Linked DNA regions of Homo sapiens: regions 1 and 3 are each linked to region 2. Evidence: fine-mapped expression QTL. A gene starts in region 2. Each other region holds a variant in brackets. All regions are shown on one strand. Distances are from middle to middle.

The links. PIP is the estimated chance that this variant, and not a neighbour inherited with it, causes the effect.
Region 1: its variant is the best candidate, but not a certain one, in a credible set for the expression of RALGPS1 in whole blood (GTEx, PIP 0.84).
Region 3: its variant is the best candidate, but not a certain one, in a credible set for the expression of RALGPS1 in Th17 cells (Schmiedel 2018, PIP 0.59).

What each region holds. Positions count from the first base shown.
Region 1 is chr9:126,864,325-126,869,324 of GRCh38, forward strand. The region is part of intron 1 of ZBTB34 (zinc finger and BTB domain containing 34); the gene reads left to right. Among named protein-coding and RNA genes, the nearest start is that of ZBTB34, 6.2 kb to the left of the region's middle. RefSeq lists an enhancer at 4,148-4,729. The variant T/C (reference allele first, on the strand shown) is at 2,959.
Region 2 is chr9:126,912,108-126,917,107 of GRCh38, forward strand. It overlaps RALGPS1 (Ral GEF with PH domain and SH3 binding motif 1), which reads left to right and starts at 2,675. Exons shown (of 19, transcript NM_014636.3): 1 at 2,675-2,868. RefSeq lists a silencer at 2,647-3,076 and enhancers at 3,567-3,636, 4,930-4,979.
Region 3 is chr9:126,972,322-126,978,759 of GRCh38, forward strand. RALGPS1 (Ral GEF with PH domain and SH3 binding motif 1) reads left to right here. Exons shown (of 19, transcript NM_014636.3): 4 at 5,374-5,424. Among named protein-coding and RNA genes, the nearest start is that of RALGPS1, 61 kb to the left of the region's middle. The variant T/C (reference allele first, on the strand shown) is at 2,670.

The DNA of each region.
Region 1 (5,000 bases), 48 kb before region 2:
CATACTGTACACAGTAGGAGCCTACTGACCGTTAGTCCTTGTCATTGCTAGTAAAATTAAAGAGGCCATTCCTCTCCTGCTTGGAAAGCTCAGAAGAAGCTTCTGATGATGTTTTGCATTGACTAAAAGACAAATCGCACCCTCTTGGAATTAGTGTATCTGAGCAGACCTGGAGAATGTTAACGCCTTGGTAGGAAATGTAACAGTTTGGATAAAAATGTTCTTTCAGGCTCACATGAATTAATGCAGTAAGAACTCTAAACTTGTTTTCTTTTAAATTAGGATGAGTGCTTCATGAATATCCATCACAGAATGCCATTTTATTTATTTTTTTTTTCTTGCATTGGGTTTCAGTAGCACCAGAATGTTTCACACAGCCCTGGTGTTATTTGACTGCTGCTTTCTAAAAGATTAGATTGTAGCTCATGACAGCTCAATTTTGGTTTTAATCTAGACCCAGGCAGAAATACCTAGAAAAGTTATTTTTATATAATTGTTACTTCTGTTACCATGCCTTTTGTCTGCGGTGCTTCAGTCTGTGGTCTTTTTAATGACTTTGTATGAAAATGAAAATTAGGGATCTTCAGGTTTCCAGTGCCTGCCAGAGAAAGCCTCGTTTGAGCTGTGTCTCAGGTATCAGCAAATGACTGAAGCCAGCAGGTGCAAATCTGGGTTTGGAATCATGAGCATCTTGATTGAGAATAATGGGTACCTCCTGGTGCCTTAAACAACTTCCAAATTTGTAACTTTCCTTTCTTTTCTTGGAAGTGTAACTGGATATTTTTAAACAAAGTGTAGCATCTTGTGGAGCAAATTAGACTGTTTATGGGTTAGGTTGGAATAAGCCACCGTGCTAGATTTTGCTGTGGGCAGAGACGATCCCGCATCTCTGGGGTCTCCAGAAGGAAAAGTTCAGAGCTGAGGGTGCGGCTGTAGTGGCAGTCCATGGATCTTGAGCCACCAGCTTGTTTTAGTTGACATGTACTGAGAGCCTCTCTGCCCCAGACACACTGCTGGGCTCTGGGCACGCAGTCCCTGCCCTCAGAGAGCTCACCGCCAGGAGTGGAAGCTCAGCAGTGAGGAGTCTCACAGAATCAGCACATTTCTAATTGTTCAGCTTTTACATTTTTACTTTTGTTCTGGTTGTTGATATGTGGAGACAGTTCCAAGGCTTTATCCAAGAAAGTTGTAGAGGAGATTTTAAGGCCCAGGTGGGTGTTTTGCCCAGATGGCATCTGAGAGTCCCTTCTTATTTTTAGGTTCTCTGCAGAATGGGTCAGCAGTGTGAGAGGATGTCATTAGTTTTCCATTGTTGCATTTCCTCACAGCTTAACAGAATACGTGGTGCAGAATTTTACTTAAAGATACTAGCCAATGGGGCCGGGCGCAGTAGCTCATTCCTGTAATCCCAGCACTTTGGGAGGCTGAGGCAGGCGGATCCCTTGAGGCCAGGAGTTCGAGACCAGACTGGTCAACATGGTAAAACCCTGTCTCTACTAAAAACACAAAAATTAGCTGAATGTGGTGGCACATGCCTGTAATCCCAGCTACTCAGGAGGCTGAGGCATGAGAATCACTTGAACCTGGGTGGCGGAGGTTACAGTGAGCCGAGATTGCACCACTGCACTCCAGCCTGGGCACAGAGCAAGACTCTGTCTCAAAACAAAACAAAAACAAAACTAGTCAGTGGAAAGGCTTGAGGAGAGGGCTAGGTGAGGATGTTACCCCCTTCATCAGGTGCTGTGTTTCCATTCCTCTTTTCTAGGAGCAAACACCCTTTCTATTCTCAGCCTTCTCTCTTTTTTTTTTCCCTCCCCGAGTAACCTCATTTTACCAAAACGATCCTCAGTCAGTACACAGTCACTCCCAAATCAGTATCTTCGGGTCTAATATTTCTCTCTAGCTCCAGCCCCATATTTCCCACGACCCCGTGAAAAACCTGAGCCCAGCTTGTCCTGGCTGAGCTACGTGGCCTCCGAGTAGACACCATGCCTCAGTCTCCAGGTGCTGCCGCCAGAATTCTGTTTGAGTTCTCTGAGTATTCAAGGCCCTCCACCTTCTGACTGTGGCCTTCTCCTTCCATGGCCTTCCTTGTCCCTGAGCTGGGGCCACTGCATGCTGCCTGCTCTACCCCAGACGCTGTTTGCATTCCCCTGTGCCCTGTTCCTGCTTTTCCTTCTGTCTGGAGTGTTCTTTTTTTTCCCTTTGAAATGCAAGGCCTTGTTCAAAAATATCTTCCTCCATGAAGTTTTCTTTTGTTCTATTTTGATTTTTTAAAAATCTTTTTGGTCAAAAGTAATCAGCCTTGTATTGTTCCTTGTAGTTCTTCGTTTCTGCCTTTATAACTGTCTGCTTGATGTAATAATTATCCATTTGCAGCCCATCTTTCTACTCTAGATTCCTTGGTTTAAAAAATTATATATTTGTAGGTACTAACCTACATGGCTTAAAAAAAAATTTTAGTGAGAATAATAGTTATGTGATTTTTTAAATGCAAAGGTATAAAATAAAGTCTGTTTCCCTTCCCTCTCCTTAGTCCTTCCCCACAGTGACCACCATTAATAGTACCACGTGGTTCCTTCCAAAATGGATACAGCAAGCAACGTAATATAATTCCTTTACAAAACGTACATGAAGGGAATGACATATATGCATACATATTAGTCTACATCTTGCTGTTTTTGGCTAAATCTTAGCACTCCTTCCATATCAAAGCATACAGATCTACCCACTCTTCTTAATAGCTGCGTAGTATTTCATTGTTGATTATATTTTTTGAAACCAGTTTCCTTTGGGGGTTCCTTTTTTTTTTTTTTTTTGCTATAGCAAAGAAAAATTCTTAGTGGTTGTTCTCATATGTCTCTCTTACACTTTTGTAGGTCCTATATATTAGTAGGCTTAATTCCTCCCCGTTACTTGTGGACCAAAAGGTAAATGCCTTTTACATTTTGATAGATA[T/C]TACCAAATTATTCATTCCTGAGGACTACACTTGCCAGCTCTTTTAAACTGTGTGCAAGGCTGATGGGTTAAAAATGGTATCTCATTATTTTTTCTTTTTGTATTTCAAACGTCTTTAATCAGAAGTAAATTTTAGCATCTTTGCTTCTTTTTTTGTCATTTTTCTTTTTTTTTTTTTTTTGAGCTGTTTGTATCCTTTGCCCATTCTCCCATAGGGGTTTTTTTTGTGTATGTCACCTAATTTGATTTGTAAATTAAGGAATTTGGAAAGTAGTTCTTTGTCAAATATGCATATATTTTTCCTCAATATATCATTTATCTTTTGGCTTTTGGCGAAAAGGGGTATTTTTTTTGTCATGTACTTTTACGTTGTCGAATGTATTTGTCTTTGCCTTTGTGGCGTCTGAGATTTATGTCATGCTTGGAAAGGCCTTTGTGTCAGTGTTATAAATAAATTCACCCATGTTGTCTTTCATTTTTTTGTTTTTTTTTTTTTGGTGATAAGTCTTTTTAAAATACTGGCATAGGAATAGAGTGGCATTAAATGGAAAGTAATAAGATCCTCCATACATTCCTTGGTGCTTTATAAGAAATTGGTTGACATGTGACACCTTTGAAAATTCAAAGGAGCTGTGTTTGCCATTGGTGGGCCACGGTATTTTATGTGACCCTCTAATGTTACATATAAGGGCAGTTATTGCCTTTTTGCCTCTTTTACTAACTCAGTGAGGGTGGGGAGCTGAATGGAAGAGCAGGGGCTTGAGTTACTGGTTTCTGTTCACCCTTCTCAGCCTCAGCCGTGAATGTGACATGATGGTCGCTTGCTCTTCCTGTTTTTGTCGAGTGGCTTTTTGTTCTTAAGCCCCTTTGGGTAAAATGCGTTAACCTGGATTGGGGGGTGTCTCTCCCTTGTGTGTTGTTGCAGAGCAGCCTCTTGCTGTCCTGATGCATGGGCGCAGTGATGGATTCTGTAGCTTTTTTGAGTGGGATCTTGCGAAGATGTCAAGCAGCATTACTTACCAAGCCTGTCGTCATATGGTCTCGCATCAGACCTTAATTTTCTTTTCAGCGCATCCATGCCTGCTTATTTCCAGAGCCCCCGCTTTGGCTTTGGACTTCAGGTCTGTGGGAGGAGTGTCCCAGGATGGCTCGTGCGGTCATTTCCAGGCAGTGCCGCTCTCCCTGTGGCTTGTACCCACAGTGCCTCACTGTGTGAGTGTCCTCCTGCTCTGGTTGCCCAGCCGGCCATCACTCCACAGCGTGTGTTCATTTCTCCCAAAGCTGCTCGCCTTCAGCTGTGCTCACCTTTGCAGTGTGGCTTCCATGTCTGCCGTCCTCTGGTGCTTTCAGACTTGGCTTCGTCACTGCTTGGTCAGTCCTGGAGGGCCCCTCACAGTTTGCTGTTGCTTTCAGGGCGCCGGTCTCAATGCTGCTTTGAATTCTGTTGAACTTGGGCTGAACCCTGTGTCTTCTTGGCAGCATCTGCTCTCTGTGACTTTCACCTTCAAACACCAAAAGGACCGGTTTACTTGAGCCCTAGATCTGTGGTTTCTAATTAATTGAGGCTTTCGCATGTAAAGATAGCTTTTTATTTAAAGCAAGTAGAGTGAGCCAGGGTCCGGGGCTCTGAGGAGGAAAGGGGGATCAAAGCTGTGAATATGGAGGGCATGATACACGGTGGCCGCGGGGCCCACCTGGAACATTCTTCTCCTCATAACCCTTCTGCTAGTGATTCTGGTCTAGAAAAGAGGGAGATTTTGCTCTACAAAGAGGGTGCTTCACTAAACTCCTACAGCTGAAATTGCTTGGTCACAGCGAATATGCAGATGTAATCTTGATGGATATTACTAAAATGCCCTCATTTGCCCTTCTCTATTCTGGGCAGCAATAGGGAGGATGTTTGCCCACCCCCACCCCCCACCCCATCTCCATCCCTTTCCTTGACACTGTCCTAGGGCAGGAATGTAACACAGGTCCAGCTCGCTAGGGATAAGGGGTTGTTGTATAGGGACCTAGATACGCACACTTCAGAAGGGTCCTGG
Region 2 (5,000 bases):
ACCACTGTGTATCTTCTTTGGAGAAATGTCTATTCAGATCCTTCTCTCTCTCTCTCTTTCTCAGACTGCACTTGGCTTTATTGCTTTAAGAAACCTATTATTTCTCGCTTATCACCATCTAAACTTTTCTGTCTTCTTTAACGTTGAACTCCCTTCTTCCTTGCTTCATTTTACTCCCATAGCACTTTTCTCTATCTAGCCTACTACTGTAAATATTGATTTTAATAGCTGCCTTACCCCACTAGAATGTCAACTCCACGAGGACAAGAATTTTTGTCTCTTTTATTCACTGCTGTTTTCTCAGCATTTACAGTAGCACTTGGCGCATAGCAGAGAACCATTAGATATTTGTAGAAAGAATGAATACATCCTTCTGGAAGCATCAAGAATCAATATTAAATGACCTTTCCTCATTTTAAAATTGGGTTTATAATAACTTCTAATATATCACAAAAGAATCTGTGTTCATTGAAAAAACTTAGAAAGTATGCATAAGCATAATAAAAGTATAGATGCCATTTAGCAAGCGTACATTGCACACACTTCTGTGCTTGCCCAAAGTCACACAGGTAAATATAATAGTAGCCAATGTTTATTGAGGTCCTGTTAGGTGCCAGGCACTCTTCCATGTATCATCTCATTAATTCCTGCCAACAGCCTGTCTAAAGAGGTTGCTACTTTTATCATTCTCATCTTTCAATAAAGAAACCGAGGCAGGTTGGGCGCGGTGGCTCAAGCCTGTAATCCCAGCACTTTGGGAGGCCAAGGTAGGCAGATCACCTGAGGTCAGGAGTTCGCGACCAACCTGGCTAACATGGTGAAAACCCATCTCTACTAAAATACAAAAATTAGCTGAGCATGGTGTGTCTGGCGTCTGTAATCCCAGCTACTTGGGAGGCTGAGGCAGGAGAATTGCTTGAACCTGGGAGACGGAGGTTGCAGTGAGCCAAGATCGTGCCACTGCACTCCAGCCTGGGCAACAGAGCAAGACTCCGTCTCAAAAAAAAAAAAAAAAAAAAAGAAAGAAACGGAGGCACATAGATATGCTAAGTAACTTGCTCACATGTACACAGCTTGCTGGTGGCAGAGCCAGGGCAGAACCATTGCACTACACTGTCTCTTGTTCTCTCTCTCTCTTCTTTTTTTTTTTTGGGACGAAGTCTCGCTCTGTCGCCCAGGCTGGAGTGCAGTGGTGCGATCTCAGCTCACTGCAAGCACCGCCTCCCAAGTTCACGCCGTTCTCCTGCCTCAGCCTCCCGAGTAGCTGGGACTACAGGCGTCCGCACCACGCCCGGCTAATTTTTTGTATTTTTAGTAGAGACAGGTTTTCACCATGTTAGCCAGGATGGTCTCTCTCTCTTTTTTGAGACAGGGTATCGCTCTGTCATCCAGGCTGGAGTGCAGTGGCGCCATCACTTGAGGCTCACTGCAGCCTTGACCTCCCGGGCTCAAGTGATACTCCCATCTCACTCTCCTGAGTAGCTGGGACTACAGTCTGCGCCACCACGCCTCGCTAATTTTTGTATTGTTATTAGAGACAGGGTCTGGCCATGTTGCCCAGGCTGGTCTCACACTTCTGAACTCAAGCAATCCTCCCGCTTTGGCTTCCCAAAGTGCTGGGATTACAGGCATGAGCCAACTCGCCAGGCTCTTGTTCTCTTTATGCAAAATAATTAAGCACCTTCTTCGATGATTACCGTTTTCTTAATACAAAATAGCAGAAACTTCTCCCAGAGGTCTTTTAAGACACAGGTGGTTTAACTTCTACTGACTCTATTTATATTCTTTTTTGTTTGTTTCTTTTTTCCTTTCATAAGCTTTGGGAAGCATAATAACCAATCATTCCATATTCATTCATATTACTGCAAAATTACTTTGAAGATTGTCAGAATGATGTTCTATTTGTCCAAGAATCTTTCGGAGTAGGGCAGGTCATAGTACCTCCTGTCTGTGGGAGGCAGAACGGAGTTTTGCTGTGGTTCCAGATTTCCAGGGATTCACAGACCTGGCTTCAATTGTCTTTGCAATTTATTATCCCTGCGACTCTAGCTAAATGACTTAACCTCTGTGCCCACCTCACCGTGCCTGGCACAGAGTAAAGATGTGGGAGCAGAGAGACAGGATCCGGGCTCATTCCCCAGCTTTGCTCCTGTGTGGTCTTGGGCAAGTCCCTTCACCTCGTTGGGCCTAACTCTGCCCAGCTGTAAAATGGATGAGACCGCCCCCCCCCCCGCCCCGCCAGGAACTCCGAGGTTTCTTCTGGCTCTGACGTTCTGGGCTCTGTGCCTACCTCCCAGCTGTGAAGAATGGGCACTAAGGCGATGTCTCGCTCACAAAACCATTTTTGTTGAAAACGATAAATCCCAGGTAGGGATTTACGGGGGATATCGGGTGAGGCCTGGACGGCCGTGTGGGGAATAAGATGCGCGGCTATTTCTAGGCAGGGGATGGGCGTGGCGGGCGGCGGGCCGGGTGTGCTGGCAGCGCAGCATCCCTGCGGGCGGGGAGGGCGTCTGCAGATGAGCTCGGAGGCCGAGGCCCGGGAGGACCGCGGATGCAGCGGCTGCGCACTGGTACGACCAGCCGGCCGATTTGCGTGTCTCCGCCCCTACAACGAGCTGGTTGGGGGGCTGTTCTGGTGCCGCGCGCCGATTGGATGAGAGGCCCGCCGCTCAGGCCCTGGAGCGGACGGTTCCTACTGCGGCTGGGCACCGGCTCCGCTCCCGCGTCTGCCCGCGCTCCAGCTGCGCCTGGCCCGGCCCCGGCCCGGCTCGGCGTGGCCCCGGCCTCCAAGCGAAGGCGCCGCTGCCGCTGGGCCGCTCCCAGGGCCATGAGGAAGCGGCGGCAGCCACTGCGGCCCGCGTCAAGGTGACCGGCCGGGACTGCGGCGGCGGGGAGAGCGGCGGTGAGAGGCGCGGCCGACGGGGCGGGGCGGGGCGGGGCGGGCCCTGAGGCCGGGCCTGAGGGAGCTGCAGGTGTGGGGGGCGGGACCCCGAGGGCCGCCGAAGCCGGGGAGGGGCCTCGGTGCGGGAGGCGGGGCCGGGGCCGTGCCTGCGGGTGCCCGGCGCCGGGGCCTGGCCGGGGTCCGGGGGTTCTGGGGTCCGGGGCCAGGGGCGCGCTGGTCCCCGGGAGCGTGAAGGACGGCGGGGAAGAGGCGCGGGCGCGGGGGGCGGGGCCGGGGGGGCAGTTGGGCGGGGCGCCGCGGCTGCAGGTGCGGGGGGCGGGGCCGGCGGGGCTGCCGTGGGCGGGGCTGTGGGGTGCGGCCCGCGCTGGACCCAAGGAAAGCACAGGTGCGGGGGGCGGGGCCCGGGGACCTGCAGCGGTGGGGGGCGGGGCCCGGGTGGCTGCGGTACGGAAGCAGGGCCCCAGGTGAGGAGCAGGCGAGGGTGAGTGGTCGCCCGAGAAGGAAAGGCCGCCCTCTCCGCTGCCCAGGGGTGCTTGGGTGGGAGCGGGGGCTTTGGGCTCCCTGAGGATTCTGGGGGCATCCGGGGCTGCCGCTAGAAGGGCCGTCCGGGCCTGCCTGTGCCTCTGCTGACTCGGGCTTGGAGCTCAGCTGCCCTGGTTACTGGCCGGTTGCCTCCCCTATGCTACGCCGCGCCCTAAGTGGGGCGCGCTGTTTTTCGCACCTCAGGGGCTTTCCTGTTGCTATTGAAGGGGCTTGCCAGGATGCGGGGGGCGGGGGGTTGGTTGTCATTGGATGATCGGTTGTTGAAAAATGTGTGTGCTTGAAGAGTAGTATGAGGCTTGGGAGGGGTCCTGGCTTGCTGGCCACTGGTACCAGAAGCTGCTGTAGATCTCAGCAGTGCGTCTCAAAAAGACTGAAATGGCAGCCTGTTAAGTGGGGAGAGCAGGGATGAGAATTCAGAAGCTTTTGACTATGCTACCTGGGAGAGTTTTTCACCTGTTTCCTCCGTTGCAAAATGAGCATGTTAGTACCTGCCTGTGTGCCTCCCAGGGGCCTGGTGAGGATAGGATGAAACAGTGCCTACTGAGCAAATCGCTGGATAAAGTTATGAGTTTCCTTTTTCTTGTGCCGATGGGCAGGTTGGATTCAGGGACTGGAGAGTCTAAAGAAGAGAGGGTTTGTTTCTAGTTAAGAGGTGAGACTAGACCACTGTCTTTTCGCAGTTTGGGATGAGGTTTTGTTGGGAGTTCCCAAAAGACTCAGCCGTGTCTTGGATCGTGACTGCTTCTCTCTGCGAGGCCTCTGAGGGAGCTGCTGCAACGCAGGGAGCAGTGGCAAGTGGAAGCAGCAGAACATTTGTTTGCTGACCTTTAGACCCCAACCCCGGTGAGGACTCTGAGCTGGAACATAAAGCTCAGGCCTGAGGCTATGGAAGTCCCTCTGCCCCCATCCAAGTACAGACCCCGATTTTACCACATTCCAAGAGGGTCGGGCGCGGTGGCTCACGCTTGTAATCCCAGCACTTTGGGAGGCCAAGGCGGGTGGATCATTTGAGGTCAGGAGTCCGAGACCAGCCTGGCCAACATGGTGAAACCCCCTCTCTACTAAAAAATACAAAAGTCAGCCGGGCATGGTGGCGGGCACCTGTAATCTCAGCTACTCAGGAGGCTGAGGCCGAGAATTGCTTGAACGTGGGAGGCGGAGGTTGCAGTGAGCCGAGATCGTGCCACTGCACTCCACCCTGGGCGATGGAGTGAGACTTTTCCATCTCAAAACACACAAAAATCCCCAAAAGAAGACCCCCAAAAGAAGGCAATGCCTGACTCCACTGTGTACCCACAGGGGCGGGGAGAAGGAAGCAGGATGACAGGGCTTTTTCTGAATTTCAGAAGAGTGTTGTATACCCATATATGTGACCTTTCAAAGCCCAGTGCCTCTGCTCACTGGTAGTTGACCAGTCCAAACTGTAATGCCTCCTACCTTCGTTGCATGGACAGAAGTGAAGGTAGGTGGAGCCTTCTCTACTAACCTGAATTTTTTTTTTTTCACTGTAGAAGCTGTGGGACTTTAGGGGCCAGGAACCATGGTGCTGGCC
Region 3 (6,438 bases), 61 kb after region 2:
TGAGGAAAGAATCAAGCATTTGTCCTACCTTTTACTTTTGAACAAACTACACTGGATAACCAAACAGTAGATGAGGGAAAGTGTCTATTAAATTATTCAGTTAAGAAAAGGAAAAGAAATGAAAGAATTGGAATATCATCATTTTGTAACCCCAGTGAATGAAAATATCTAAGCAGTGAACATCAATAGCCACTAACATTACAAAAGGAGAGCCATTGTGTGCCTCCTGATGAAGCAGTGTGCCGCCACCTGCGGTCTTGCCAAAGGGATGCACCTGTGTCTGATGAAGTCCCTGGGTCCAGCTGCTGATTTGCAGACATACCAAGAATGGAAGAACACATTGACCTGTTCCATAAGTGTGGAGAACTTATGGCTTGGATTCTTCAGCAGATGTATTACAAGGAATATAAAGGGATGGAGAGAATATTTGTAGATTAAAAGAGATTTTAAAAGTACATATCGGCTGGGGCAGTGGCTCACACCTGTAATCCCAACACTTTGGGAGGCTGAGGTGGGCGGATCACAAGGTCAGGAGTTTGAGACCAGCCTGGCCAATATGGTGAAACCCTGTCTCTACTAAAAATACAAAAATTAGCCAGGCATGGTGGCGCACACGTGTAGTCCCAGCTACTCAGGAGGCTGAGGCAGGAGAATCGCTTGAACCCAGGAGGTGGAGGTTGCAGTGAGCCGAGATTGCGCCACTGCACTCCAACCTGGGCGACAGAGCGAGACTCCATCTCAAAACAAACAAAAAGTATGTATCAGGTTGAGCATGGTGGCTTACATCTGTAATCCCAGCACTTTGGGAGGTTGTGGTGGGAGGATTGTTTGAGGCCAGGAGTTAGAGATCAGCCTGGGCAACAGAGCTAGAATCCATCTCTACAAAAAATTAAAAAGTTAGCTGGGCATGGTGGCTTATACCTGTAGTTGTAGCTTCTCAGGAGGCTGAGGCAGGAGGGATCACTTGAACCCAGAATTTTGAGGTTAGCTCACTAGGTATGATCACACCACTGCATTCAAGCCTGGACAACAGGTAAGACACTCTCTCTAAAATAGGTAGGTAGGTAGGTAGGTAGGTAGATAGCACTTATCAAATTTTTAAAAAAGTGGACAGGACTACCCTGTGATGTATAGGTGTATATACTTGAGTGATTAAATTATTTAAAAAACTTGAAGAAAGTCAGGATAATGGTTACTTTTGGTGGGAGAGAGACTTGTGATTGGGACAAGTCACATTGAAGAACTTCTGGGGTGGCTCTTTTATTCGTTTTGATTGTGCCAAAATATACGTAATATAAAATTTACTATCTTAACATTTTTCAGTGTACAATTCAGCAGTGTTAAGTACATTCACAGTGTCATGTAACCAATCTCCAGAACTGCTTTCGTCTTGCAAAATGGAAACTCTGTATCCATTAAACAACTCCCCATTCCCTCTCCTCCCAACCCCCAGCAACCACTACTCTACTTTCTGACTCCATGATTTTGACTCTTCTAGTTACCTCATGTAAGTGGAGTCATATAGTATTTGTCTTTGTGACTTTTCTGTAGATTTGACTTTCTGTTTTGTTTTGAGACAATCTCACTTACTCCCAGGCTGGAGTGCAGTGGTGCGATTTCGGCTCACTGCAACCCACTCCTCTCGGGTTCAAGCAATTCTCTTGCCTCAGCCTCCTGAGTAGCTGGGATTACAGACATGCACCACCACACCCGGCTAATTTTTGTATGTCATATTACAGACAGGGTTTCACCATGTTGGCCAGGGTGGTCTCGAACTCCTGACCTCAAGTGATCCGCCAGCTTCAGCCTCCCAAAGTGCTATGATTACAGGCATGAACCACTGTGCCCAGCCTAGTTTGACATTTTTTAAAAATGAAAAGTTAAAAAAGCTTTAAATAAGTTACTGCTAGATTAATTTTCAAAAGGAACAGAACAGTTCCTAGGCCCATCCCCTGACTCTTTTCTAAATTGCCGGACACGGGCTTTCTGTGGTTCTGTGAGTCAAAGCAGGAATAGATCTTTGGAGCTGATTACTCTGTTCTGTGCGCCCTCCTGGCCATGCCTTGGTGGAGTGGGGTAAAGCCAACAGCTTTTTTTGTTTGTTTATTTGGGGTCTGGAAGACCCTTACATTTAAGGTTGAGGCTGGGAAGAGAGGATTTAGTCAGCCACTGTTAGAGAGGAGAAATACTACATTTAACATATGCAAAAAACTTTTTTTTTTCCTTTTGGCTAACCAAGTAGCATTTCCCTTAAAAGCCTGGGTTTTTAGAGGGCCCTGGACTAGGAGGAAGGAGGAGATGGGAGAAGGCTTAAGGAAGCCATTGCCAGGTGACTAGCTTGACTGGACATCCTATGTTAATGCTTTATTTCTCAAAATAAGGATAGGCCATTAAGAGACTTACGAGTGTTCTCGCTCAGCCCCACTACTGGCCGGATTTGCTGCTTGGAAACGAGAGTGGGAGGCTCCTTGTCTCATGTTTCTGTTGAGGCTGTAACATACCCCTAGAAAATGCCTTTTCTCTCCAGGAAACCAAGGTACCTCTCCTGAGGGAGGGACAGGGCGCTGAGATGGTCCCGAGAGCTGGCTATGAAGTGTGACAGGACCTGACCTCACCTCTTACCCCAACCCCTACCCATACTTCCCACCCCCCTTTTTGGTAAAACTGAG[T/C]GGCCTTGAGGGTTCAAACTTCCAGGGAAGGATTACTCATCAGCGACCTCTAACATATGTTTGGCTTTTTAGTAAAATGGCATGAAATCGATAATCTGATGATCTTTGTAAGTATCTTGTATCAAAATATCCTTGCTCTAGATACTGTATCTTTTTTGGTCAGAATTGAAAGGATAGAAATAGAGATTCTTCTGAAACCTCATTATGTATTTCGGACTAGCTAGTCTAAGTCTGGTGACCTCTGTTGTTGTTTGTTTTGAATAAAACACCTGAACACATTTTCTGACTTATGGTCTGAGCAGAGAGCAGAATATTTGAAACTTGGACCATCCAAAAAGTGTGAAATGTAAGGTCACTGCTTTAATAAATCATCTGGAAATTCAGTAGCAAACCCTAGAACTGGTGGCAGGATGGAAAGGAAGTTTTCTCATTTTCACATTAGCAGACGTTTGGTTCTTTTCCTAAATGACATTGCAAACATCCTGCCGGTTCTCCCGGATAGGGTGTTAACTTGAAGTGCAGGGGAGATTTCCAAGGTCCTCTGAGCTTTCAGGTCAAATCTCCTGTCTTTACAAGGCCTTTCTGTTCCCCAGGATGGCAGACTTAATCCAAATATGAGAAGCACTTGGCTAACCATCTTGATGGATCTGGCAGAAGAAATGCCAGTCTGTTTGCACTGCTCAGGACATAGTTCTGAGCCATGGAGCTCTAGGCCAAACATAGACCTATAGGCCTTCAGGGCTTACTGGCCACTCAACACCCAGATTATGAGGGCCAGATACATTATGCTGATGTCAAGAGTCTCCTTGACATCAAGAGGTGTTGGGTGGAAACTGGAGGCGGAAGAGCTCAGATTCCGCTCCAGTGCTTCCTTATTCCTGGTCCTCTCTCCCACCTCTCAGCCAGGCTGGTGGCAGCATCTCACCCGTTTCCATGAAGAACACTAGCTCCGCTCCTGGGAGAGTACAAAGAGGCTCTCCACTGAAGCCAGCTGCATGTTTTCCTCTCCACTCTGCCTGAGGATGGTCTGCTTTGGCCTGTATCCCGTGCTTCTCAGGAACCCAGTGACCTTGGACCACCTTTGAGTGTGTTGCCATTTTTCTCTAATATATTCTTAATACAAGGGTTTTTACTGGCTCAGTGGATTTTAAACATGTTCTTTAGAGCAACCTCAGTGCATGAATATTCAACCAAATTAATGGTCCCTTATTTGCTAGCTTATGTATTGGTCAGGAACCGTAAGTTCACATGCCAGTACATGAGCCCATCTGTGTGGCTTCCATTTTGACACACACACACCCCCTTACACTCAACACTCATTCTCACACACACACACACACACTTTCATATACACGCACACACGTACACCCTCACACATACACACACTTATACGCTTACACTCACATTCACAGTCACACACACCATATACTCACACACACACACACACACTCAGATACACACACATAAACACACTGTCTTATGTGTTTATTGAGCATCTGTCAGGTGCCAGGAACGCTACCTCTTGTCTTGAATTTTCACCAAGATCCCATAAAATAGGGATTATTGTCATCATTTTCTAGATGTGGTACCTGACTGAGAGAGATTGTGTGTCAAAGAGAACATTGCCGTTAAGTGACAGTGTCCAGACACACACCCAAGCCCTGTAGACTCCAGAGCCCATTTGTTCCCTGTATCATGTCATCCTGGATGGCCTGTGTTCAATGGACAGAGTGTCTTCTCACATTAAAGGCATCCAAAGGTCTTCAGCTCTCCTCTCCCTGGCGTGTCACAGAGGCATCTCTTAACTGACATCTGGCATCCCATGTGACATGGAGGTAGGTGGATCACGTGAAGTCAGTTCAGTTCATGCCTTGGTCTGAAAAATGGTCAGCATGATGCTTCCTGTTACTGTCACCAGATGAGGTTCTTATGATGGGCACAGCCTTTTAACCTGATGTGTGTCTTCTCTATTGATGACATTGCTGCATCTTAAGCCGGCTGTGGTGAAGGACTAGTTTTTTCCATTTGCAATAATTTGAGGACAGATACTTAAAATGTATATAATGGAAATGTCATGGTCATGTAAAAAATTGCTATGCAAGTTCCAAATGCTTGCTCTCAGCTTCTGTACTTCTCTCATTGTGGGCTGGTGGAATAAACAGTTTGTTGTCCCGTGCTGGTCTGTGGGTGCGTCTTGAATAGCACTCTACCATATAATTTAGGGGCAGTATCAATGACTTCAGAAGAAAAATATAATTTCTATAAGCCACAGCTTTAAAATGAACTTAATTTATAGTAATAGTGTTTCTGTTTAGCATTCTAATTTTAAATATTGTTTCTACAACTTTAAAAAATTACAAAAGTAGTTCATGCTTGAAATACAAATTCAAATAGTATGAAAATTTTCAAATAAAACTGTTCCCTTTTCTCCCAGGCCCACCCCCCAAACAACTTTTATCAATTCCTAAATTGAAAGTTCATCTCACATTCAAGAAAGAAGGGTGTGGATCAGAATTTATGAAGCGGGGGAAGGGATGGGAGAGGCATTTCAGAAATGTATCCAATTTTTTACTCTATTTGGTCTTGTTTTTTATCTCAAAGGGGAAAGTATAACTTTTATGAGTGTATATGACTCTGTATAAAGTAACATGACAGTTATCTTTGATGTACAGTATTTTCTAAAATTGATTCTCTTTTGTTGCAGAGCCAGATTACATTAATGGATATACCTGTGTTTAAAGCTATCCAGCCGGAGGTCTGTACTTTGTCTTTCTACTCTTCTATTCATGCTGTGGGTGGGCAGCGAGGATTTAGCCAGCCACTGTTAGAGTGTCTCAGTTTCTCTCTTGCAGGCTCTATAAATGCATGTTATCCATTTAAACCCCATTCTATTCTTGATGGTGCTCATGTTTTTGAGCCCAGTATTTGGATTTTCCAGAGAATGTCTCCCGTCTGGCCTACTCTGGCAGGGCTGGGAGCAGTTGGTACCCACAGGACTCCACGCCTGAGAGTCAGGTCTTAACACCCTCATTCCTTTTCCCAGGCTCCTCCTGCTGAAAATGTTTGCTTTCAAGAAGTGATGTGAGGGAACATTTTTCTGGAAAGTTCTCTTTTTGTTCATCCCAAATTCTGGTGGTTGCCTTGTTTCTATTTTTGAAACCAGTTGCCGAAGCAAACATGTACATATTTACATTGAAAGCATATATGGGTCAGGTGTGGTGGCTCACACCTGTAATCCCGGCACTTTGGGAGCCCTAGGTGGGAGGATCGCTTGAGATCAGGGGTTTGAGACCAGCCTGAGCAAAATAGTGAGTGTCAAAAAAAAAAAAAGCATATGTACATTTTTAGAAACAGCATATTCAATAAAGGGTAAAAAGTTGATTTTGGTCTTAAAAAAATTCCTGGAAATGTTTGGCAATTGATAACAAGGTTTTGGTTATTTTACCCAGGGTGTGTGTGTGTGTGCGTGTGAGATCAGGTAAACAAAAATCCATTTCAAAGTAGCTGAATAGGGAGGCTGAGGCAGGAGAATTGCTTGAACCCAGGAGGTGAAGGTTGCAGTGAGCCATGATTGTGCCATTACACTCCAGCCTGGACAAAAGAGCGAGACTCTGTCAAAAAAAAAAAAAAAAGTAGCTGAATAGGCTGAAGAGGAATTTATTACAAGGATAAAGGGACACTTTACAGAATTCATGGGGTGAGTTCAGGCATCCAGAGAGCCACCAGGACACAGGCAGTCCCTACTTCCTGCTCCGCTTTTACCTCTCCT